Linked DNA regions of Homo sapiens. The protein of the gene in region 3 purifies or fractionates together with the protein of the main gene of each other region. This does not show direct contact. Each region holds a gene or a part of one and is shown on either strand. Other genes may lie near its edges.

Evidence for each region.
Region 1: the proteins of BTNL9 (region 3) and IPO9 purify together in Homo sapiens (affinity purification with mass spectrometry; one large-scale study listed by BioGRID and IntAct). This does not show direct contact.
Region 2: the proteins of BTNL9 (region 3) and DYM purify together in Homo sapiens (affinity purification with mass spectrometry; one large-scale study listed by BioGRID and IntAct). This does not show direct contact.
Region 4: the proteins of BTNL9 (region 3) and METTL9 purify together in Homo sapiens (affinity purification with mass spectrometry; one large-scale study listed by BioGRID and IntAct). This does not show direct contact.
Region 5: the proteins of BTNL9 (region 3) and DNAJC16 purify together in Homo sapiens (affinity purification with mass spectrometry; one large-scale study listed by BioGRID and IntAct). This does not show direct contact.
Region 6: the proteins of BTNL9 (region 3) and SLTM purify together in Homo sapiens (affinity purification with mass spectrometry; one large-scale study listed by BioGRID and IntAct). This does not show direct contact.
Region 7: the proteins of BTNL9 (region 3) and CAND2 purify together in Homo sapiens (affinity purification with mass spectrometry; one large-scale study listed by BioGRID and IntAct). This does not show direct contact.

Annotation. Positions count from the first base shown.
Region 1 is NC_000001.11:201,853,157-201,856,656, forward strand, and holds part of IPO9 (importin-9), read left to right. Parts: intron 1-1,438; coding exon 1,439-1,558; intron 1,559-1,666; coding exon 1,667-1,767; intron 1,768-1,967; coding exon 1,968-2,026; intron 2,027-2,626; coding exon 2,627-2,778; intron 2,779-3,500. UniProt on the Homo sapiens protein: Nuclear transport receptor that mediates nuclear import of proteins, such as histones, proteasome and actin. Serves as receptor for nuclear localization signals (NLS) in cargo substrates.
Region 2 is NC_000018.10:49,373,646-49,377,145, forward strand, and holds part of DYM (dymeclin), read right to left. Parts: intron 1-3,500. UniProt on the Homo sapiens protein: Necessary for correct organization of Golgi apparatus. Involved in bone development.
Region 3 is NC_000005.10:181,053,766-181,057,265, forward strand, and holds part of BTNL9 (butyrophilin-like protein 9 isoform a precursor), read left to right. Parts: exon of another isoform or gene 1-266; coding exon of another isoform or gene 267-375; intron 376-473; coding exon 474-494; intron 495-1,667; coding exon 1,668-1,688; intron 1,689-2,223; coding exon 2,224-2,250; intron 2,251-2,772; coding exon of another isoform or gene 2,773-2,852; exon of another isoform or gene 2,853-3,404; intron 3,405-3,500.
Region 4 is NC_000016.10:21,609,577-21,613,076, forward strand, and holds part of METTL9 (protein-L-histidine N-pros-methyltransferase isoform 1 precursor), read left to right. Parts: intron 1-3,068; coding exon 3,069-3,259; intron 3,260-3,500. UniProt on the Homo sapiens protein: Protein-histidine N-methyltransferase that specifically catalyzes 1-methylhistidine (pros-methylhistidine) methylation of target proteins.
Region 5 is NC_000001.11:15,547,348-15,550,847, forward strand, and holds part of DNAJC16 (dnaJ homolog subfamily C member 16 isoform 1 precursor), read left to right. Parts: intron 1-922; coding exon 923-1,081; intron 1,082-3,500. UniProt on the Homo sapiens protein: Plays an important role in regulating the size of autophagosomes during the formation process.
Region 6 is NC_000015.10:58,885,180-58,888,679, reverse strand, and holds part of SLTM (SAFB-like transcription modulator), read left to right. Parts: intron 1-124; coding exon 125-295; intron 296-1,059; coding exon of another isoform or gene 1,060-1,078; exon of another isoform or gene 1,079-1,139; coding exon 1,140-1,454; intron 1,455-1,560; coding exon 1,561-1,705; intron 1,706-3,500. UniProt on the Homo sapiens protein: When overexpressed, acts as a general inhibitor of transcription that eventually leads to apoptosis.
Region 7 is NC_000003.12:12,799,680-12,803,179, reverse strand, and holds part of CAND2 (cullin-associated NEDD8-dissociated protein 2), read right to left. Parts: intron 1-3,500.

The DNA.
Region 1 (3,500 bases), on a different chromosome or scaffold from region 3:
CAGTGAGTCATTTCATGATAGCAGCACGAAAAAGCACACTAACCAGTATTAGAGATAGATTTAACATTTTTATTAAATTATTGTTGTTATTTTTCCAGACAGGGTCTTGCTCTGTCACCCAGGCTGGACTACAGTGGTGCAATCATGGCTCACTACAGCCTTGAACTCCTGGGCTTAAGTGATCCCCTGACCCCCAGTAGGAACTACAGGTGTGGTGTGCACCACCACACTTGGCTGATTTTCTTTTTTAAATGTTTGTAGAGATAGGGTCTCACTGTATTGCCCAGGCTGGTCTTGAACTTCTGGGCTCAAGCAGTCTTCCCCCCTCAGCCTCCCAAAGTGCTGGGGTTATAAGCATGAACCACAACACTCAGCTATATTTGTATTTTTTTTATTTATTTGGGTTTTTTTTGAGACAAGATCTTGCTCTGTCACCCAGGCTGGAATGCAGTGGCATGATCATAGCTCACTGCAGCCTCAACCTCCCAGGTTCAAGCAATCCTCTCACCTCAGCCTCCCGAGTAGGTGAGATCACCAGCATGTGCTACCACTCCTGGCTAATGAATGAATGAGTGAACGAATGAATTTATTTATTTATTTAGAGATGGAGTCTCGCTCTGTCACCAGGCTAGAGTGCAGTGGTGCAATCTCAGCTCACTGCAACGTCCGCCTCCCAGGTTCAAGTGATTCTTCTGCCTCAGCCTCCCGAGTAGCTGGGACTACAGGCACGCGCCATCATGCCCAGCTAATTTTTGTTTTGCAGTAGAGACAGGGTTTCACCATGTTGGCCAGGATGGTCTCAATATCTTGACCTCGTGATCCACCCACCTCGGCCTCCCAAAGTGCTGGGATTACAGGCATGAGCCACCATGCCCAGCCTAATGAATTTATATTTGTAGAGACGGGGTCTCTCCCTATGTTGCCCAGGCTCATCTTGAACTCCTTGGCTCAAGTGATCCTCCCACCTTGGCCTCCCAAAGTGCTAGGATTATAGGTGTGAGCCACCACACCTGGCCTGATTGAATTTTCAACTTGTAAAAAGCTTAGTCTTCTTTTGAGTCTTACTTCTTCAAACACCTTATCCTATATCCTTTTCATAGTAGTCATCCCTTAGAACTTTCCTACTCTTTTATGGCCCTCTTGTGTGAAGCAAAGCTAGCTGAAAAATACCAATCCCTGTGATTCAGAAGCAGTTAGGAGGAAAGTTGGTCTTACATAATAGTTTTTAAGAGGGCTTTGATGAAGAACTGCAAGTGCTGGTTAAGGAAAAATGAAATCTTAGGTAACACCTTCATTGACTTTATAGCTATTCTCTTCTGATCAGGCTTGGAGCCTGAAGAGAGCTTTAGGTGCCTTTCAAATATCAGTGTTTGATATATATGTGTTGAAGCCATGGATTAGGGGTTTGTCCAGTATTGACTTTGGTTTCTGTTATCAGGGTGCAGCCAAAGTCCTGATCTTTCCCGTGGTACAGCAGTTCACAGAGGCCTTTGTTCAGGCCCTCCAGATACCAGATGGCCCCACATCTGACAGTGGGTTTAAGATGGAGGTCCTAAAGGTAAACACTTACTACCAATGAAATATTTGGAGTTTGAGGGGCTGGTCTGAAATCATTTATTTCTTATATATCACTCATAACTTGGGTCCTTTTCTCTTAACTTCTTAGGCAGTGACAGCCCTAGTGAAAAACTTCCCAAAGCACATGGTGTCCTCCATGCAGCAGATTCTGCCTATTGTTTGGAACACCCTAACCGAGAGTGCAGCTTTATATCCTTTCTTGAAAGTTTAAGGGAGCTACTACCACCTATAGTTAGGAATCTCGCACTGGGTTTCACATTCATATGGTTCCACTCTTCTTACACAGGCTTTTTTAAGGTGTCTACTTTTAGTGTTGGAATATGTAACATTTCCATGTAGATTATATGTAAAGCAGACTCCAAATTCTATTTCTTTACTCTTCATCATACTTATGTGAGGACAGAAGTAAATTACACAGAAGAAGTAGAAGATCCTGTGGATTCTGATGGTATGTAGTTTATTTGATCTTTATAGAAATACCAGTTAGTGGGAAAAGAAAAAGAAGCCAGAGATGGGGGCGGGAAACAGTAACTTGAGAGGCTTCACTCTATTAAGTGTTTTCTAATTCAGTTTATTTTCGATGTATTCGATGTGGGGAAATGAGAATTGACAATCTTTAATCTGTTCCACATAGGTAGTTGCATAAATCTCATAAAATCATAGAATTTCTGCATTGGAAGAGATACTTTTAAGGCCATTTAATCTAGCCTACTTCTGGCATTTTGTTGTGTTTCATTTGGGGGTCCCAGATCATGAATCTTTCGTTTCTGTTTTAACATTTCTCATTATTTCAGATTAGAACAATAGACATACTGGAAAATATATCCAGTGTTTCTGATTCTTTTACTTGAAAAACCAAAGAATATTTAATATCCTCAAAATTACGTTTTGTGACCTCTGAGCCCTCTCTCCCAATTCCTCAGGAATGATCATTAGCAAGTACTTTAAATATTCAGTAATTTACAAAGGTTATGTAGTTCATTTTCTGCATATATGCTTTCCTTTTGCTTTCTTGTCATTAATTTCTTCTCTTCTGTATTTCCTGCAGGTGAAGTCCTGGGCTTTGAAAATCTCGTCTTTAGCATTTTTGAATTTGTCCATGCTCTACTAGAAAATAGCAAATTCAAAAGCACTGTTAAGAAAGCCTTGCCTGAATTGATTTATTATATTATCCTGTACATGCAAATCACTGAGGAGCAGGTAAATAATATTTGAGAGACAGTTACCATCTTGTATTTGGAAAGTGCAACTTGAAGAATATGAGGTCTTGGTCAGGTGAACACTTTATTTCTAAAAATAGACACAAAAAGAATAATTTCATGTGAAGTTCTGGGAAAGGTTTGACATCATTTTATTGCCAAATCCAAGGTTTTGGAGTTCACCACCATACCTGGCTTTTTTTTTTTTTTTTTTTCCCAGCAAAGTACTATACTATGTTGCCCAGGCTAGTAGTCTCTAACTCCTGGGCTCAAGCAATCCACCCACCTTGGCCTCTCAAAGTGCTGGGATTACAGGCATGAGTGACTGTGCCTGGCCCACTTTTGCCATTAGAAAATCTCACAGGACCACTAACCTAAGACACTGATTTTTAGGAGAATCTGTTCCTTCCCTAAAGTAAAATGTAATAATCAGACCATTAGCCTGATGGTGGGTCATCAAAAGCAGCAAAGAACGTTCAAAAATTAGATAACGCCTCGTTTAAAACAGCACAAGAATTGACATAATTTTCACAATAAATAGTCTATCAGACTTAATCTATTCAGAAAATCGATCTATCAAAGGGTAACAGCAGGTTGACATTGGCAGAGAGCTAGTAATCAGCCAGATTCTAAAAGAGAGCAATAGCCATTGCTACCTACCTTGCTACTTAATAGTATTTATTTCTCTACATCAAAAAGAAAAGATTTTTTTAAGCTAGAGTT
Region 2 (3,500 bases), on a different chromosome or scaffold from region 3:
TGGTAGGTTTCAACTTAATTTACCCAGCTCCTATTCAAGATGGAGTTGTTCTGGTTCCCATGCCTCTGACAATATCACGTTAAATAAAGTAAAAATATGCACATTTTGTAGGACATAATACAAAACAAAGTGCTGGGTTTGCAGGTATTGAGTGGGCTATGCTCTTGGGCCCTGTGAGGATAAACATTCACTCCATTCTTGCTGCTAGCACTTCATGGGAAGGTTTGCAACTTACCAAGCAGAACTATGTTTTTGGTACTACTGGCATCACAAACATGAAGGCCAGCATTAACAAAACTAACACACGCAAGACACAATTCTAATTAAAAGCTCTAACTTCAGACATCAGTATATATTTAAAAAATATAGAAGGCTAATGATCAAAATAGTAAATTAAACATATCCATCTCTTGAAACTCAAACTCAATGTATAAAGCACAAGCTCTGAAAATCATGCTAAATGATAAACAATAACTGTGAAAGATGATGGGGTGGTTTGGGAATAGTTAAATTAATTAGATTCTACATAATTCTCACAAATATTCTCTCCTAGAAAAAAATAAAGTATATAACATTCAAAATACCAAAATTCTGCAGTATCTCTCACACACCAACTTAGTTAACTTCCTCAAAATCCTTGATTAAGTCTATACTATAACATACAGTTATATGGTAGTCAGAGAACATAATGGTCAATCCCAAAAGAAGATCAAGACCAGCAAAAAATCTAGCTATATTCAGAAACAACTTAGAAGGTCTTATGTTCCTTTCCTACTTAGTGACTGAGAAAGAGACAGAAAATGTATTTTGCCTGTGAAAGTTTAGGGGGAAGAGGAAGCAGTACCTGTTTTTCCAGTACCACTAATCAAATGTGGAGTCAAAGGGACTTTTATTATTGAAATAAATTTTGGTGAAATGACAAATGCTCAATCTCTAAAAATATTAGGATGGTTCAGTTTGCTTCCTGTGCCTCAGCTCCCTTTTCCAAGGTAGCTTAATGAAAGGTAGCTTCAATAAAATTTGGCTGCCTAGGCCAGGCCCAGTGGCTCACACCTGTAATCCCAGCACTTTGGGAGGCCGAGGTGGGCAGATCACATGAGGTCAGGAGTTCAAGACCAGCCTGACCAACATGGTGAAACCCCTGTCTCTACTAAAAATACAAAAGTAACCGGGCATGGTGGCACATGCCTCTAATCCCAGATACTTGGGAGGCTGAGGTAGGAGAATCACCTGAACCCAGGAGGCGGAGGTTGCAGTGAGCCGAGATCGTTCCATTGCACTCCAACCAGGGCAACAAAAGTGAAACTGTCTCAAAAAAAAAAAAATTGGCTGCCTATCTTTTTTAGAGCAGAATCTCAAAAGTTCAACAGGAATTACTTCAGAGTAGAAAGCACAGAATCCAAGAAAGGAATGGCTGATCTACAGTGAAACTGGAGAGTTGTTTCCCCTGAGAAGACAAGGTAAACATTTTTATCCAAGGGAAATACTCGTGGGGCAGCCCCTAAACACCTGGGGCTCTCACAGTTACAAAGCGGGAAAGGGGAAAAGACACACACACACACACACACACACACACACACACACATCTATACCTACCTTGGGCTTTAGAAGAAAAAAATATATATATATAAACATATATACACATATATATATGTATATATACACACACACATATTCATTGTCATTTTATTCACCCTTTATAGGAAACTATTCTTAATAAATTATAACTTGGTACAGTATCTGAAATTTAACATTTTTTTAACAGCATCAAAGAGAATTTCAGTACCTATCCCCTTCCCCCTATCCCCCAAAGTTAATGAGGTAGTAATTCATACTAACTCAAAACTGGACAAAACAATAAGTGACCTTCCATGAAATGGTCTTCTGGGACAGAAGGGAAAATAAAAGATGACAGCAAATAAAACTGCTAAAATTGATATGCTTGCTTTATTCAAGAATAATAAAGTTATCCACATTTTAACTATGAAATGTAGAATAATACCTGAGATACTGTGATGGTTAATATCGAGTGTCAACTTGATCGGATTGAAAGATGCAAAGTACTGTTCCTGGATGTGTCTGTGAGGGTGTTGCCAAAGGAGATCAACGTTTGAGTCAGTGGACTGGGAGAGGCATACCCACCCTCAATCTGGGTGGGCACCATCTAATCAGCTGCCAGGACAAATAGAATAAAGCAGGCAGAAGAACATGGAAGGAACAGACTTGCTGAGTCTCCTGGCCTTCATCTTTCTCCCATGCTGGATGCTTCTTGCCCTCAAACACTGGACTCCAGATTCTTCTGTTTTTGGACCCTTGGACTTACACCAGTGGTTTGCCAGGGACTCTTGGGCCTTCAGACACAGACTGAAGGCTGCACTGTCAGCCCTACTTTTGAGGTTTTGGGACTCAAACTGGCTTCCTTGCTCCTCAGCTTGCACAGGGCCTATTGTGGCACTTCACGTTGTGATCATGTGAGTCACTACTCCTTAATAAACTCCCCTTCATATATACATCTATGCTATTTGTCCTGTCCCTCCAGAGAACCCTAATACAATAACTTTCAAAGAAAAGTAGAACATATGATTTCCCTTCCCTGCAACCAGCCAACTATGTCATCTGTTGGAAAGAAACTTTAGAACACTTACGAAACAAACTTAATTGTGATATTTTTAATTCAGTATGCTCTCAAGGATGAAACTTGAATTTAAATACACTCAACCATATTTGTCCAGTATCAGTAGAGGAAAACAAAAATGTTTCCACATAAACAGAAAACAAAAGATTGCTGATATCTTGCTCAAGCACAAACTAGAGTCTGCTCATCTATCTGCCTATTTGGGGACAGGGCATATGTAAACTGCAGCAAATTCCATTTAGTCTACAAACTTCTGACCAAAGAAAATGAAGAGCTCTTGCCTGCTAAATGTTCTGCATGCCTTGCACACAGCATTGCTATGAGGCAGTAGTTTCCTGCCCTGTGATGTTTGCCACCTTTCAGTTTTCTCAAAACCTGCAGAACTTAGTGAGATTCGGACCTTACAGAAATGAAAGGCGATAGACTCCTTGGACATGAACCTGCCAAATGGCTATCAAGGTGGCCAGTCACAGAAAAGCTGTTAAAATGTTAGAAGATGGTAAAATCGTATTTTCAAAGTGTGAGTCAAGAAGAATGTCCTTTTCTAATTTGGAAATACACTGAGGATAAGAATGAAGAAAAAGATTGCAGTAAAACAGAAATTCATATTCTATTTCTCCAAAACCGTTTCCTGATCTTGAAAGAGGCCATAAGGAGCCTAAAGAAGGATGAAATGACTGTCCTAAGTTGCTCAACAGTATGTGTAGAAAATTGCTCTACCATCAGGTAATGGGGTCTCAGAGGGAGAAGAGATAAATACACATGGTCACTCTGCTACTTGAGTTGAAAGTATTGTAAACTATTGTTTTCTTGTACCATGTCATTTCATTTGCTCAAAATGTAACATAATACCTTAATACATTTA
Region 3 (3,500 bases):
CTTCACATCACACTGTACAGAGGGAGCGGTGACCAGGGTCTCTGCTGCCAGCGCCACCTCGTCCAGGTTTTCATAGCGCACAGGGAGTCGGGCGGATGCGCAACATCTCCGCACAGGGTCAGGAAGCGGCGGTCAGGCACCGAGAAAACAGCCCAGTTACGTGAGGCAGTGTCCGGGGCTTAACGTTTCCGCCGAGCTAATAGATTTGGGAGGCTCCGACCCTGATTTTCACACTAGCAGGAGGGAGGGCGCTGGGTCACCCTCCTATGCAGAAGGGCAGCCAAGGGTGCGCACTTCCCCATCCCCTGCCTGGAGCCTCACTTCCAGCCCAGCCTGGGCCCGCAGACCACCGCGGGTGGGAGTGCCGCATCGGAGGTGAGGCCTCAGTGTTCACCCATCTGTTCTGTCTGCCTCATTCCCCAACCTGAGAGTCTTTCCCCTTTTCTTCATCTTTTTTTTTTTTTTTTCTCTAGAGAAACTCACTGCAGAGCTGGGTAAGTTCTGGGTGCGGGGCCACAGTGCTGCCTGTCAGCCGGACCCTGTGCCTGTGCAGTGGGAGGAGGGGCTCCCTTTGGACAGCGGCTGGCAACTATCTAATTCTAAACCATCCCTGTGAGCCTCCACCTCTTCCCTTGCTAAGGGGCTGAAAGGATGGCTGCCTGCCACCGTGCAGCTGCCCGAGACCCTCTGCACAGACCCTGCCAGCTCCTCCCCTGCAAATTAGACAATTCAGTTAAAATTCATCATAAAACGTTTACTGTCTCCGGTTCATCTTCTTAAAATATCCTTTTCTTTTTAATGCAAATGGCACTAGGAAGGGTGGCACCTTTAATTTGCACCAAAATGGAAATAATTTCTCAGATCCACTTTTCTCCCCAGAGGGACTCAGAGACGTGAAACCATGGGATGTGTCTCTGTAGAGAGGAAGAGAGAGTGAACCCAAGGGAGGGGGAATGGAGGAAAAGGCCATCATGGTGTTGGGGTTGGGGGGGCAATTCAGATGAAACTGTAAGGTTGGGAAAGCTTGTCTGGCAGTCTACCTCGCCCTTCAAGGGGAATGAGAAAAACATAGCCCTAATAAGTCATTAAGGCTATAGTCTGAATTGTAAGTCATAACACTATAGCATGAATGCCTCTCCCAGGAGCATTTACTTTTGAAAGAGCTTGACATTGGGTGGACAGATCAAAGGAATGCATTTTTAGTAGCAAAATGTTGGAGTCCTTGGTAATTATTTGGGGAAATAATTGGGTGTGATGTCCTTCCAGTCCTTCAGATAACGCACCCGGTGAGTGACCGTGAGGCTCACGTAGGCGGCCCTCAGTGCCTGCACTTAGGCGGGAGCTCCGCCCCAGGAAGCTTGTGATTTCAGGCAGAAGGAACAACCCCAACCCTGGGAAGAGGCCTGTCAGTACTAAGATCTGGTATCCCTTCTAGGCTGTGTGCAGATTTCCACCTTTGAGCTAAGATAGGATGAGGCATAAGAGTCCTGCAGATGGGCCTCTTTTTGAGGGCAATGAAGGGGCAAAGAGGAAGCTGTAAAAAAAAAAAAATGAAGCTGTGATTAGCAGTGGCTTAAGACTAAGGAAGCTCTTCCCAGTGGCCTGTCTTGGGAAGATGGTTCCACCCACCTGCAGGCTGAAGTTTTCTTTGTGTGTTCTGCTTGCAGAAAAGCTTCAGACAGAGCTTGGTAAGTGACCCCTCTTAGAACTATTTCTCCTCAGGGCCGGGTCCAGTGGCTCACACCTGTAATCCCAGTACTTTGGGAGGCCGAGGCGGGTGGATCACGAGGTCAGGAGATCGAGACCAGCCTGGCTAACACAGTGAAACCCCGTCTCTTCTAAAAATACAAAAAATTAGCCCGGCGTGGCGGCATGTGCCTGTAGTCCCAGCTACATGGGAGGCTGAGGCAGGAGAAGGGCGTGAACCCGGGAAGCGGAGCTTGCAGTGAGCCGAGATGGCGCCACTGCACTCCAGCCTGGGCGACAGAGCGAGACTCTGTCTCAAAAAAAAAAAGAACTATTTCTCCTCATTCATCATTTTGCATCTGATTCCCCATATATCTTCTTCTCATCTCCCAACCAGGTATGATGCCCAGGCAGGACCCCTGCTGGCTATGTGGGTGGTGGGGGGTGCGGGACAGGGTGGGTGCAAGATGTGATGTGTGAGCAGGGAAGCTTGGGGTCCTGATGTGCTAATTTCCTGTTTTCCCTTGGTTGCTTCAGACTGGAGACGGGCTGAAGGCCAGGCTGGTGAGTGGAACCCATCTCTCTCTGACTCCTCCTCATTTATATCTGAGCACCCCAGTCCAACTCACCTGATTAACCAATCAGGCTTCATTCTGGTTGCATTCCGTGGCCTCACACAGCATGTGTTAATCTATGTCACTGGGTAGAGGTCATACTCTGTCCTGAGGACTAAGTGTACTGCAAACCACTAGTTCCAATCCTGGTTACATATCAGAGTTACCTCGACTCCTGGTGCCCATCCTCCAAGACTCAGACTCATGGTTCTGGCATGAGTGTGTTGCTGTACATGTAAATACTTCTCTGCATACCTCCCTCTATTCACCCATAATGCAGACAGTCTAATGTATATATTTTGTATATATTCTTGCAAAATGTGAATATCGATGTATGCATATGCATCTTAGTTCATGTAAGTGACATTTATGGTTCTGTGATGTTCCTTGCTTTTCCCGTATGCATCATCATGCTTTAATATCCATCGCTGCCACTCGTGTGCATTCAGTCTGTTTTTCCTCCTTACTGCAGAGTGCTTCGTTTTAGCCAGCCACCCTCCTGGAGAAGGTATCCAGGCTGCCTCTAACTCCACAACAACACTGAATGCATAGTCTCAAACGTGTTGCCTTACGGCGCTGTGTGGAGATTTCTCTGGGGTATATAACTAGGAGGGGGACTGCTGGCCCATGGTGGGTATGTCCACTAAGGGGATAGTGGGATCCCAGGAAGGCAGTGTCGTTATCCTGCCACCAGCCATGCAGTGAGATTCCATGTGCCCACATCTCATGTGAACCAGCATTCCAAGTTTGCCAATCAGTGGGGATAAGTGATGGCTCATTGTTCTTTAGGTTTGCAACCTCTGAATGCTGAGAAGATTGAGCATCTCTGTATATGCTAGTTGGCTCTGGGGACTTCCTCTACTGAAAATTGCCAGCTCACATCACTGACCCATTTTTCTTATGGGATGGCTGTCTTTTATTATTAACAGGAATATTATATATCTGTGTGTGTGTGTGTGTGTGTGTGTGTGTGTGTGTGAGATTAATCCCTCATGGGTAAACATCGTGAATTCCTTCTTCTGTTGTGCCATCTGCCATTAGCTTTGTCCATAGTTCCCCTTATTGAAAAGGAATTATTAATTTTGATAAAACATAATCCATCAACTTTTTCTTTATGGTTTGTGTTTTTGAAGTTTTGTTGAAGACCTTCCTCACACTTAGGTCACAAAGATTCTCTTACACTTTCTTCTATTTTTTTTT
Region 4 (3,500 bases), on a different chromosome or scaffold from region 3:
GAAGAGAGAGTGGGTTAGGTGGTGGGAAATGTTGGGGGGCAGAGCAAATACCATGTGAGACAGCCACGGGAAAGGGGCCTTCCAGAAAAAAGAAGGAAGGGGTGGAGCTGTGTGATGGAGTGAGGGTCCAGGGGTCATGGGTTGGTAGGGAATGTCATGAGGTGAGGCTGGAGACACAGAATGAACAAAAATCGTGCAGGGCCTTATAAGCCATATTAAGCATTTTGGATGTTATCCTAAGATTCCTGTTAAGCAGGGTAGTGATGTGATCAGATTTGCATTTAAAATTTGCATTTTAAGAGGTTTTCTAGGTTACTTATGTTTTCAGGCCACTTTTAATTTCTGGAAGATCTAACTGCCACCTGCATATTTAGGGAGGGGTGTGTGTGTGTGTTTAAAAAACAGCTTTATTGGGATATAATTCACATACCATGAAATTTATCCTTTTAAAGAGTACAATTCATTGATTTTTAGTATAATCACAGAATTATGCAGCCATCACCAGTATTAATTTTGGAACATTTCATCACCCCAAAAAGAAACCTCATGTCCATTAGCAGCCACTCCACATTGTCCCAGCTCCCCAGCCCCTGGCAGCCACAATCTACTATCTACTTTCTATCTCTGGATTTGCATATTCAAGACATTTCACGTAAGTGGAATTACACAGTATGTGGTCTTTTGTGACTGACTTATTTCACTTAGCATAATGTTGTCAAGGTTCATCCATGCTGGAGCATGAAGCAGTGCTTCATTCCTTTGTATGGCAGAACATGCTATTATTTTATATGAATCTATTATCACATCTTGCTTATCCACCATTTGATGGACATTTGACTTGTTTGCAGTTTCTGACATTGCTGCTGTGAAATCGACATTTGTGTCATGCAAATGGTCAGAAAGGACATACGTTTCACCTTTCTTTTTAAAGAGAAGAGCTTTGCTCTATTTTTGTTCTGTAGCACATTCTGTTCAATAAGCAGTTTCTTTCCAGAAAGACCTGTGTGACAGTAAGGGTTCAACCACACGTGTTAATGTTGATGAATTGAGAAAAATGCTATTAAAAACTTGAGTTTTCCTCTTGGTGCTTGAAAGCACTATTTGCAGCTAATGGTGCCAGTTCCTGCTTGGTTCTAGAAGTCAGAATCTATTGTTGTTCTAGTCCATTTACAAGTGGATGCCAAGGAATTCTTAGCTCCTCTGTTTCACTTGAATGACTTCTCATCCACATTAATAAAATGTACCTGATTGCCTATTATCAAGGTGATGGCTTTCATCTTGATTAGCCATTTCAGAGAATAAAAAATAAATAAAAGTCAGAGTGGCCTCCATATTACAGAGTTCAGAACGTGCACCAGGAGGTCATGAGTATAATAAAAAACGGTTTATGACCTGCACTGGAGCATAACTTCAGGCACAATAAGTATTAAGAATTAGAAAATCATTAAGCAAGAACATTTTCAGACCAAGGGAAAAAATGTAGGCAGTGAATGTAAAAAGCTTCATAGCTTGTCATATAGAGTAGGAAAAATAAAAACAGTTTTATATATAAAGTCCAAGCAGTTTTGATAACTGTGATGAAATGGCAAATTAGCACAAATTAGTCCACAACTGGAAAGGTTTGGTTTACCCAGTTTAGGGAACAGAGTTTGTAAAATGATTAATCTCTGAAATTTAACGTGCCTGTTTGTTTGTGTTGATTTGTAACTAGTTCCTTTTAACGTTAGCATCAGGAATGTTACTTAAGATTTCACTGAACATTAGTAAGCTTAGGATGACTGTAAAGCTGGTCTACCAATTGTGCAAGCACTTATGGGACGTCTACTGCTGATAAAAGGTCGTATTTGTCAAGGGGAAGCAAATTACTCTTGGCCAATTGACTGGGAAAAATTTGTGTTTCATGGCAGATAATGGGTTAATAATAATTGATATACTTTGTAGTTTCATCACTGTACTTAAGGGGCTTATTCTTATTTCTCAGGCTATGTTAGAGGAATCTCACTGCTATTATTATTGTAGGATTCTCACTACGTGCTTTGTATTATGTTGAGGACTTGCCTGCATTATCTTGTTTAATCCTCATCGTACCCTGCCAGGATATATAGACCCCAGTGACATCTCTAGTCTACAAATGAATGGAGGCTGAGAGATTTAAGTGATTTGTCTGAGCTCACATAGGAAGGGCAGAGCCGGGACTTGATTGTGGGGCTGACGCTAAAGCTGATGTACAGTCTGCTTCCCCACCTCTCTGGTATGCTGACTCATTTATTATGAAAGATTAAATTTCATCTACAGGTGAAGCTTTTTGAATTTTGTTCTAGAATGTGGATTCTGGGTAGAGCCAATTCCTGGAAATCTGGTTCTTAGCATGTTACTATTTGGTCTTCTCGTTGATTGCAGTATGACCTTAAGTAACTTCTTAATCTTTCTTGAGCACATGTTGCCTCTGTAAGAATGTCATATGACCTATTTGTAAAGCATACCTCAAGATTTCTAAAGATCTCTTTTACATAGTCCACAAGAGGAAAGGCAACTTAATCTGGTCACTGGAGTGTTAAATTCTGTTGCTTACTTTGCTATTTGGGTTTGTTTGGTGATTTTGAGTTAAGGCATTGGATTATGTGACTGTTTTCTTGTCTAAAAACAAGGATGCTGCTAGCTGTTTGCCTTCTGATGTTGAATCTCAGTGAAAGAGAGGCCAGCAGAGCTTTCTAAATCTCGGGTACAGTGACTGAAGCACTGGGCTGGGAGTCCGAGTGCCTGAGCTGTGGTCTGGTTCTGCTGCCTACTAAGCTGAATGACCCAAAAGCCTCTCCACCCTTCCCTCACCCACTCTACCTACCTTGAGGGCTGTAAGAGAATTAAATGAGAAGTCATGTCTGAAGAAGTACTTTATATTTTATAGGTTATATGAGTATACGAAATGATTATTCTCAGAGTATCATGAGATGGTAATATTTGGAAATCTTAGATGTGATTTAGTCTTCTGGTTTTTTGTTTTTGGATTTCTTAGGTGACACTTCGGTTGTGTGTTTTAATTTTTGTTCTTTTTTTTTTTTTTTTTTTAGTGGTATGTGTGCAACAGAGAGAAATTATGCGAATCACTCCAGGCTGTCTTTGTTCAGAGTTACCTTGATCAAGGAACACAGATCTTCTTAAACAACAGCATTGAGAAATCGGGCTGGCTATTTATCCAATTATATCATTCTTTTGTGTCATCTGTTTTTAGCCTGTTTATGTCTAGAACATCTATCAATGGGTAAGTGAATCTTGGACATTTATTTTTTTCTTTATCCTTAGGTTTACAAAAGGAAAAACACAAAAAGAAAAGTTATCTTGTTCAGCATGTTGACTACCTGAGCTACAATACTTCTACTAGTCAGAACCTTGGCAGTTGGTCCAGCGTTCTATCTTTCTGTGGTTCTGCCCTTTAAATTCACCATAACGTGACAGCCTCATTAGTATGTTTATTCATAGCGGGAGTTACTTACGGTAGTGCT
Region 5 (3,500 bases), on a different chromosome or scaffold from region 3:
ATGTTGGCCAGGCTGCTCTCGAACTCCTGACCTTGTGACCCACCTGCCTCAGCCTCCCAAATTGCTGGGATTACAGGCATGAGCCACTGTGATGGGCTTTTTTTTTTTTTTCGGAGACCAAGTCTCACTCTGTTGCCCATGCTGGAGTGCAGTGGTGTGATCTAGACTCACTGCAACCTCCGCCTACCGGGTTCAAGCAATTCTTTCACCTCTGCCTCCAGAGTAGCTGGGACTGCAGGCACACACCACCACGCTCGGCTAATTTTTGTGTTTTAGTGGAGATGGGGTTTCACCATGTTGGCCAGGCTGGTCTTGCACTCCTGACCTCAAGTGATCCGCCCACCTCGGCCTCCCAAAGTGCTGGGATTAAAGGCATGAGCCACCACGCCTGGCCACTATCCCTGTTTGCATAGAGCAAGATACTGAGGCTTAGAGCAGTCATATAACCCACCCAAGTTCTCACTACAGCATGGTGAGCGCGATTCCCACTGACTTCAGACCTGCCCTGTGAATGATTCCCCCACTACACTCCCAGCCTACCTACACTCCCCACTACCTCTCATGTCACTGTGACATGAGACGGAGAGGAAGGTGTTATCAGTGGCATGGTCACTGCCATCTTACCTAATTACGGTACAGGTAATCCCCAAACTCATGCCTCCTGACCAGTACAGATTTCAAGAAGATCGTTATTTTGCTTTAGCTATGAAAAAGAAGAGAGTTGTTTGTATTTACTTTGTTGGTACAGTTTTTGCACATGGAACACCATAGAATGGAAGTATACAAGGATACGGAAGACCTAGTGGAGCTGTGTAAGCTGGCATGTACCTCTCTGCTCAGTGATGTGAAAAAGCCCTACTTGATTTGTCATTTACATCTTTGCTGTAGTTTTATTTTCTTCCTCTCTATTATGCCCTAACAGTTGACTGCCTTTGCATACAAAGATTATTTATCATTTGGATATGTATATGTGGGTTTGAGAGGGACGGAAGAGATGACAAGGCGGTACAACATCAATATCTACGCCCCTACCCTCTTGGTCTTTAAAGAACATATAAACAGGCCTGCCGATGTTATCCAGGTACGTGAGGGTCACCTTGGTTAAGATTTTCTTCACATTTTATCCCAAGATTTTATGTAAATAAACAGCAAAATTGAACAAAGTGGCTGAAGGAAAGGATCTTCCTTCAGATGCACAAAATTTTTTAATGAATTTTTTTATCTAACTTGGTACCGTTTGCTTTAAAATTTTTAATTTAAAACGTTTAAAAATTTTAGCACCTTTAAAGGGCTCCTGTTGGAAAACCAACAATCTTTTTCCAAAATGAATTTAAAAGTTAAATGTAAAACAGTAATAAAAAGGAATAAGAAGAAGCCACAAACTAACTGAGAGAATGTACAGATGAATATTTATCTGATCTTAAGGTAGGAAAGGGTTAAAAAGCATTGGGGAAAAATCTTGGAAAATCTTGATAACTTGACTCTAAATTTTATGTTTTTATGTAAATACTTTAAAATGTAAAGTTAAAAAACTGGGGGAATATTTATAACAAATATTAAAATGTTGATATTTTTAATTTCTAAAGAGCTTTTAATCAAGAAAATCATAAAATTCTGAGAAGACTAATAACCATTTTTAAAAATTAAATCTCACAAGTAATCAGAGAACATTAACCTTTTTTCACCCATCCAACTGTCAAAGATTTTCTAAGTTAAAATAGTACTGTTGAGGGTATAGAGAAACAAGTACTATCTTGCTAGAGGCAGTCCACTCTAATGGCAGCTCAGGTGTCCTGTGAACACAGAAGGGTACCTGAAACCATGGAAACCAGATGGGAAAGTGGACCGTAAAGAAAGAAGAGCAGGTTTAGAAAGATAAGAACTTTGGCTGTGGACATACTGAATTAGAGCTGCCTGTAGGAAATAGAAGGGGAGAAGTCCTTTCTACAGTTGGGTATAGGAATCGAGATCTTAAGAAAAGCATACAGGCTGGGGATAGAAACTGGTGTATCATCAGTAAATGGTTAGTGGTTGAAGTCCTGAGTAGGGTAAGATCTTCCCGGCATAATACCGTAGTCTCCCCTGATCCACCCCACTTACCCCTTTTTCAGTTTCTGAGGTTTCAGTTACCCACAGTCAACCAGGTCCAAAACATAGGTGACTACAGTGCAAGAAGATATTTTGAAGCCGGGCGTGGTGGCTCACGCCTGTAATCCCAGCACTTTGGGAGGCCGAGGCGGGCAGATCACGAGGTCAGGAGATTGAGACCATCCTGGCCAACGTGGTGAAACCCCGTCTCTACTAAAAATACAAAAAATTAGCCGGGCGTGGTGGTGGGCCCCTGTAGTCCCAGCTACTCGGGAGGCTGGGGCAGGAGAATGGCGTGAACCCAGGAGGCGGAGCTTGCAGTGAGCTGAGATCACGCCGCCCACTGCACTCCAGCCTGGGCGACAGAGCAAGACTCCGTCTCAAAAAAAAAAAAAAAAAAAAAGATGTTTTGAGCGAGGGGGACCATGTTCACATCACTTTATTACAGTATATTGTTAGAATTGTTCTATTTAAATATTGTTGTTGTTAATCTCTTGCTGTGCCTAATTGATAAACTTTATCATAGGTATGTGTATAGGAAAAAAACATAGTTTGTATAGAGTTCAGTACTATGTGGTTTCAGGCACCTACTGGGGGTCTTGGAACGTATCCTCTGCAGTTAGGGGATGACTGCTGTATGTAAAGTAAGGCCAAGGAGGCCAAGGACAAAACTCAGAACAGCCACCGGCACACAAGACAAGGGGGTGCCTGATGGAGACGAGAAGGTGCTGCAAGTCAGGAAGAAAACAAATACCAGTGTCCGAATAGAAAAGAGAAGATAATCTCAATCCAGGGTAAATGGATGAGGATTTCCTAAATTGGTCTTTCGGAACAGTTTATAGTTCTGAGAATTATATTTATTTATCCCACTGGGGAAAATTGTAAATCAAATACATTTACAAAATTATTGGTAGAATGGCTGCTTTACCAGCTTGCTCTTTGTGGATATCAAGTGTATGCTTAACAAACTCAGTTTTCACAACAGCAGGTGGCTTAATGATCACTAGTAGCACCAGTGGTTTCCTGTTGCTCTAGGTAATTTGTTGTCATTGCTATATGGTATTTATGGCCATTATAATTTATTGAATCATTCTTCCGTTGGTGGACATTGGGGGCTTTGAGGAATAGTGTTGCAATGAATATCATAACCTAAGTACAGAGTTCTCTAGGACAGCAGTTTTCAGAATGTGGTTGATAGACTCCTGGGGATTCTCAAAGATCCTTCAAGAGAAAGTCTGTGAGATCATATCAAGACACGATTTGCCTTTTTCACTGTGTTGACATTTACACTGATAGTACCAAAGCAGTAGTGGGTGAAGCTGCCAGTGCCAGTGCATGAATCCAGGCAGGGCACCAGGCCACCTACCATCATTGTGTGCTTCACCCCCAATCACTCGCAGCAAAAACAAACC
Region 6 (3,500 bases), on a different chromosome or scaffold from region 3:
TGTCTTGAGTTTACTAGCCCTGTTATGTCCACAGTTCTAACATGTGGTATGTATGACTCCAAGTAAATGTCGTTTGATTACTGTAGAACTAATTTATGTAAATAAGCAAATATTTCTCTTCAAGGCGAGATGATCCTTACTGGAGCGAGAATAAAAAGTTGTCTCTAGATACAGATGCACGATTTGGCCATGGATCCGACTACTCTCGCCAACAGAACAGATTTAATGACTTTGATCACCGAGAGAGGGGCAGGTTTCCTGAGAGTTCAGCAGTACAGTCTTCATCTTTTGAAAGGTAGATATGTTGAAAATTGTTATATTTATTTTATGAGCCTTGCTAGTGATAACTCTGTTTCTCCTAAAATCTTAACTGGAAGTACCAGGTCAGAACTGAATGCTCAGAACAATTTACGTGGTTTTTGTTTCTGTTAATGGGAATGTGATTCAGTATTCCAAATTAATTAACTAGAACACCATTAAGCAGGTTGGCTTTATCTTCTTATCTTTATTCTATTTTAATTTTTTTTGAGACAGGGTCTCATTCTGATTCCCAGGCTAGAACGCAGTGGTGCAATCTTGGCATACTGTACCTCTGCCTCGTGGGTTCAAACGATTCTTGTGCCTCAGCCACCCAAGTAGCTGAGATTATAGACATGCACCACCACCATGCCCGGCTAATTTTTGTATTTGTAGTAGAGACGGGGTTTTGCCATGTTGGCCAGGCTGGTCTAGCACTTCTGACCTGAAGTGATCCACCCACCTCAGCCTTCCAAAGTGCTGAGATTACAGGCCTGAGCCACCACTCCCCGCCTCTTCTTATCTTTAAAACTGTGGAAGCACTGATTGCTTTGGATATGCCTCAACTGTTAAGAACAGTAAAACATTCTTCAGCTTGGTAGTGACTTTTGAGTGTTCGGTATCATTTCTCCTGAATGCTAAAAAACCAACCTTTAGGCTAGACACTTAGTTCAGTTTAAAAGAAAATGAGTTGTAATAATCAATAACTAGCTTTTTTCCATGGCTTTGCCTTAAGTTCATTTTTTGGTTTCATTATTGTAGGTTATGCAGACAAAGTTAAGAAGAATTAAGCACTCAAGTAAGCACTTCTTGGACCTATATTCTTTGTTTCTAATCAATAGGCGGGATCGCTTTGTTGGTCAAAGTGAGGGGAAAAAAGCACGACCTACTGCACGAAGGGAAGATCCAAGCTTCGAAAGATATCCCAAAAATTTCAGTGACTCCAGAAGAAATGAGCCTCCACCACCAAGAAATGAACTTAGAGAATCAGACAGGCGAGAAGTACGAGGGGAGCGAGACGAAAGGAGAACGGTGATTATTCATGACAGGCCTGATATCACTCATCCTAGACATCCTCGAGAGGCAGGGCCCAATCCTTCCAGACCCACCAGCTGGAAAAGTGAAGGAAGCATGTCCACTGACAAACGGGAAACAAGGTAGCTGTGTACTATGTAATGCTTTCCTAGTGGTCTCATGCATTGGGGTTAAAAAAAGTTAAGATTACAGTTTTGATCATGTATGTTTTTATGTTTTGTTTAACAGAGTTGAAAGGCCAGAACGATCTGGGAGAGAAGTATCAGGGCACAGTGTGAGAGGCGCTCCCCCTGGGAATCGTAGCAGCGCTTCGGGGTACGGGAGCAGAGAGGGAGACAGAGGAGTCATCACAGACCGAGGAGGTGGATCACAGGTAAGTGCTGCGGGAGGCTTGCCGCGAGCCTGCACACATACATTTAGAGGATTCATGAGCTACTCTGGATATACAGTAGCATTTTGATGTGGCTTAGATTAGCTAGATTGGAATGATTCAGAGGCATTAATTTTTTATTTAAATTTTTAAAATCTGAATTTTTCTCATACTTTACTGTCAGTAGTTGACCATCAGTAGTCCAAAGAGTTAAGGTACTAGCCTTGAAATACTCCATTTCGATTAAACTTCCCAGTGAAATTTAAGAATTGTTAATTTGGTAAGTGAGCCTATCTAATGATAACTTTGGTTTTATTTCTTTTTAAGAAATTGAGGCTTTCAAACTGCATCTGAAATCTTTGGCCCCTACTTGTGTTTCCTTTTCAATAAAATATTCTTGGCCGGGCATGGTGGCTCATGCCAACACTTTGGGAGGTAATCCCAACACTGTGGGAGGCCGAGGTGGGCAGATCGCCTGAGCTCAGGAATTTCAGACTAGCCTGGGCAACATGGTGAAACCCCATCTCTACTAAAAATACAAAAATTAGCCGGGCGTGGTGGTGGGCGCCTGTAATCCCAGCTACTCTGGAGGCTGAAGCAGGAGAATCACTTGAGCCCAAGAGTTGGAGGTTGCAGTGAGCCAAGATGGTGCCACTGCACTCCAGCCTGGGCTACAGAGCCAGACCCTGTCTGGAAAAAAAAAAAAAAAATACACACACACACACACACACACACACACACACACACACACACACACACTCTTCTTTTTCTCCTGCTTCATTTAAGTAGCTTAAAGTGTAAAATTGAAATAGAACTTTTGTCTATTTTTTGTCTTCTTATCCTAAAGGTAGATGAGTGTAATGTTACATATTTTTAAATTTTTACTCTTGTGACACTTTATTGACTTGAATATTTTGTAAGTTAATGAGCTGGACAGAGGAAAGTGTCTTTATCTTTTAGAGACCGAAATGAACAAAAACCTTTTGCCTCATTTAAAAGTATTCTTCTACTGATGAAATACTGGCGTGTGGGTTGATAGTAGCACAGTTAGGACATACTTTCATAAATTATATACCAAAAAGAATTGTGCAGTGTGTGTGTCTCCATTATATGCTGGTGTTTGTTTTGTATTTTAATACAGTGTGTGTGTGTGTGTTGTTGTTTTTTTTGTTTTGTTTTGTTTGTTTGTTTTTTGAGATGGAGTCTTACTCTGTCAAACAGGCTGACATGCCGTGGTGCGATCTCGGCTCACGGCAACCTCCGCCTCCCAGGTTCAAGCGATTTTCCTTCCTCAGCCTCCCGATTAGCTGGGACTACAGATGTGCGCCACCACGCCTGGCTAATTTTTGTATTTTTAGTAGAGGCGGGGTTTCACCATGTTGGTCAGGCTGGTTTCAAACTTCCGACCATCCACCTCTGTCTCCCAAAGTGCTGGAATTACAAGCATGAACCATGACGCCCACCTCCTAAAAAGAATTTTTAAGACTGAGTCTATAATCCAAATAAGTCTGCCTTGTTTATAGTAAAATTTAAGTATCAAAGACTAGCCCTCCGCATTCAGAGGTCCTTTTAGAAAATGTGTCCTGAGGAGGAGATCTTGTATCCTCCCTTGAAAATTTTCTTTTTCATAATGTTAGTCTGTAAATTGTTCTGCCAGTATTATATCTAAGCCTCTCTGTGGGTACCTTCTGCTTTCTTTCCTGTAAGCTAAGTATCACAATGCTTGCTTTCTCTTTCCATAGATCTCTAGTTCTACAGTTTCTGTTTCTTTGTGTTTGCTACTCTGTTTTCCATAGTT
Region 7 (3,500 bases), on a different chromosome or scaffold from region 3:
TCTACTAAACAAAATACAAAAAATTAGCCAGGTGTGGTGGCGGGCGCCTGTAGTCCCAGCTACTTGGGAGGCTGAAGCAGGAGAATGGCGTGAACCCGGGAGGCGGAGCTTGCAGTGAGCCAAGATCATGCCACTGTACTCCAGCCTGGGCGACAGAGAGAGACTCCGTCTCCAAAAAAAAAAAAAAAAAAGATTTTAATGGAGCTGCCCTATACAGGCATGCCATTTTAATCTTTTCTACCTTATTTTTACTGTACCTTTTCTATGTTTAGACACACAAATACCACTCTGTTACAACTGCCTACAGTACTCAATACAGGTTTGTAGCCTAGGAGCAACAGGCCACACCATATAGCCTGGGAGTGTAGTAGGCTCTACCATCTAGGTTGTGTAGGCACACTCTATGAGGTTCACACAAGGACAAAATCGCCTAAGGATGCACTTCTCAGAATGTTTCCCCGTCGTTAAGTGCCACATGATGGTGGATTATTTGGGCAGTGGGCATGGTTGGGCTACAAGGAGACCCACATATGTGTGACACCAACTGCCACATAGTGGCAGACTAGCAACGGCTCAGCATGCTGGCTAAATGCATAATGTTTCAGGATCGGTGGCCCCCGCCTCAGCCATTTATGAGTGTGAACTTGGGCAAGTCATTTCACCTCTCCAAGCCTTAGTTTACCTGTCTGAAAACAGGGATGAGACTAGTACCTGCCTCATGGTGTTTTAAGTGCACATGGTGTGTGCTCAGTAAATGGCACTGCCATTATTATAATGGCACAGGACATCATCCACATCTCACAACAGCTGAGAAAGTGATGCCAGAAGGTTGTTTTGTTTTGTTTTGTTTTTTGAGATGGAGTCTTGCTCTGTTGCCCAGGCTGGAGTGCAGTGGCACGATCTCAGCTCACTGCAAGCTCCATCTCCTGGGTTCACACCATTCTCCTGCCTCAGCCTCCCGAGTAGCTGGGACTACAGGTGCCGGCCACCACGCCCGGCTAATTTTTTGTATTTTTAGTAGAGGTGGGGTTTCACTGTGTTAGCCAGGATGGTCTTGATCTCCTGACCTCGTGATCCGCCCACCTCGGCCTCCCAAAATGCTAGGATTACAGGCGTGAGCCACCGCGCCCAGCCAAGGGATACCAGAAGGTTGAACAGACACCTTGTGTCCAAGTCAGAGCTAGAGGCCTGTCTGCCAAACAGATGGAGGAGGGCGAGCCCTGTCCACTCCCATCTCAGAGAACCGGCTCAGTCCCTGCCCTTAGAGCAGTGGATCTCCAGCTATAGCCAGCATCAGAATCACCAGCAGCGCTTGTTAAATAATACTAGTCCCCATTCCCAGAGTTTCTGAATCAGCAGGTCTGAGTTGGGGCCCAGGAATCCACATTTCTAACAAATTCCTGGAGGACACTGAGGGTCAGGGACCACACTTTGAAAACCACTGCCCCACGCCATGCTGATGGGCATGGGCATATTTTGGAGACCAGCGCCAATAGCTGACTGGCTCACTGACCTAGGGTGGGCACCAGAGGCAAGGGCTACCCACCCGGAGGTGAGGGATTCATGGGGCCTGACACCAAAAGCCTGATGCTGTCCCAGGCATTTGAAACTGCAGTGGGAGTCTAAGCTGGAAGCCACGGAAAGTTGAGGCTGGGGCCAACTTTCCAAGTCGAGGAATGGTGCGGGAATTGGGCACCATTCCCGCCAAAATTAAGAGGGTAGGAGCAGAGGTCTGAAACTAGTAGCCCTCAGCTGTGTCCAGCTTGCAAACATGTTTTCAAAAATTTAAATTACTTGTCAACATTTGAACATTGGGAAAGTTGACACAAAAATACTGACTTTGGCCTGGCATGGCGGCTCACGCCTGTAATCCCAGCACTTTAGGAGGCTGAGGCGGGTGGATCACCTGAGGTCAAAAGTTCTAGATCAGCCTGGCCAATATGGTGAAACCCTGTCTCTATTAAAAATACAAAAATTAGCCGAGCGCGGTGGCAGACACCTGTAATCCTAGCTACTGGGAAGGCTGAGGCAGGTGAATCACTTGAACCCGGGAGGCAAAGGTTGCAGTGAGCTGAGATCGTGCCACTGCACTCCAGCCTGGGTAACAGTGCGAGTATCCATCTCAAAAAAAAAAAAAAAAAAAAATACTGATTTCCAGGCTGGGCGCAGCAGCTCACGCCTGCAATCCCAGCACTTTGGGAGGCCAAGGTCGCCAGATCACTTAAGGTCAGAAATTAGAGACCAGCCTGGCCAACAGGGGGAAACCCCATCTCTACTAAAAATACGAAAATTAGCCAGGTATGGTGGTGCACACCTGTAGTCCCAGCTACTTGGGAGGCTGAGGCAGGAGAATCACTTGAACCCAGGAGGCAGAGGTTGCAGTGAGCCAAGATCGTGCCACAGCACTCCAGCCTGGGTGACAGAGTGAGACTCAAAAAAAAACAAAAACAAAAACAAAAACAAAACACTGACTTCCAGATTATCTTGAAAACAGAATATTTGAGTACAACGGGGCCTACAATCCCTGGTGACAATACCTGATTAGAATCAGGTTGTGGCTGCCCTCTCCCCAGTTCACCTGGTCCCCACTAGGCCCACTTCACCCACTGACTGGCTCCTGCAGGCATGTGAGAGCGGAGTCTCAGGAGAAAACAGGACAGAGCAGCGAGGAGATACTGTAAGGCTGCCTCGGAGAAAGCCTCCAGCTTTTACTGACCCTGCTGGGCCACTCTACCACCCCACGCTGGCCCTGCTTTCCAGCATGGTTGAGCAAATCAACCAAGAGCCCTGACCCCCGCCTCCTGTGGCAAAATCTATCACAGTTGGGATTCTGGCTCTCATCTGTGCAGACTCAGACCTGCTCCTAGATGTCACTGCAGCCCACAGTGCCCTGTTACCAGGGGTGGACTGGTCGATGACCTATTTATTTTTAACAGGTAGATTAGCCACAAGTTGCTAGGAGAGAGAAGGAGGCTGGGCTGGCAGCATGGGCAGGATGGCAGGACTGACTGTGCCCACCTCTGGGCAAAGGTAAAGTGAAGGAGGAGGTTTGGATTTGAGCCAGGCCAAGGCCTGAGGTGAGCACATGCACCCCTACGTCTGCTCAGCTGAGGGGACATTCTGAGATGGCACCCAGGGTCTCCAAGTTGTGTTTCTGCTGCAGTCCATGGGGGCCCAGCTCAGCCTGGCAACCCAGGCGATGTGCCTCTTTGCCCAAGATAGGCCTTCTATCCCCGCTCTTCTTCTTCATCTGTTGAGCTCCTCCTATTCACCCATCAAGAGCCCAGCTCAAATGTCCCAGCTCAAGGATGACTGACCTCCCTGCCCTACCCCTGCATCCACAGCCCCTAAGCACAATGGTTCCCTGGACAAGATCCTTTCAGAGCACTCTGCACCCCTCCTTTATAGCACTTCTCACACTGCAATACAAGTCTGGCCACCAGAGCATCTTCTCCATTGGACTGTACACTCACTGAGGGCAGAGGCTCATCAGGTTTATC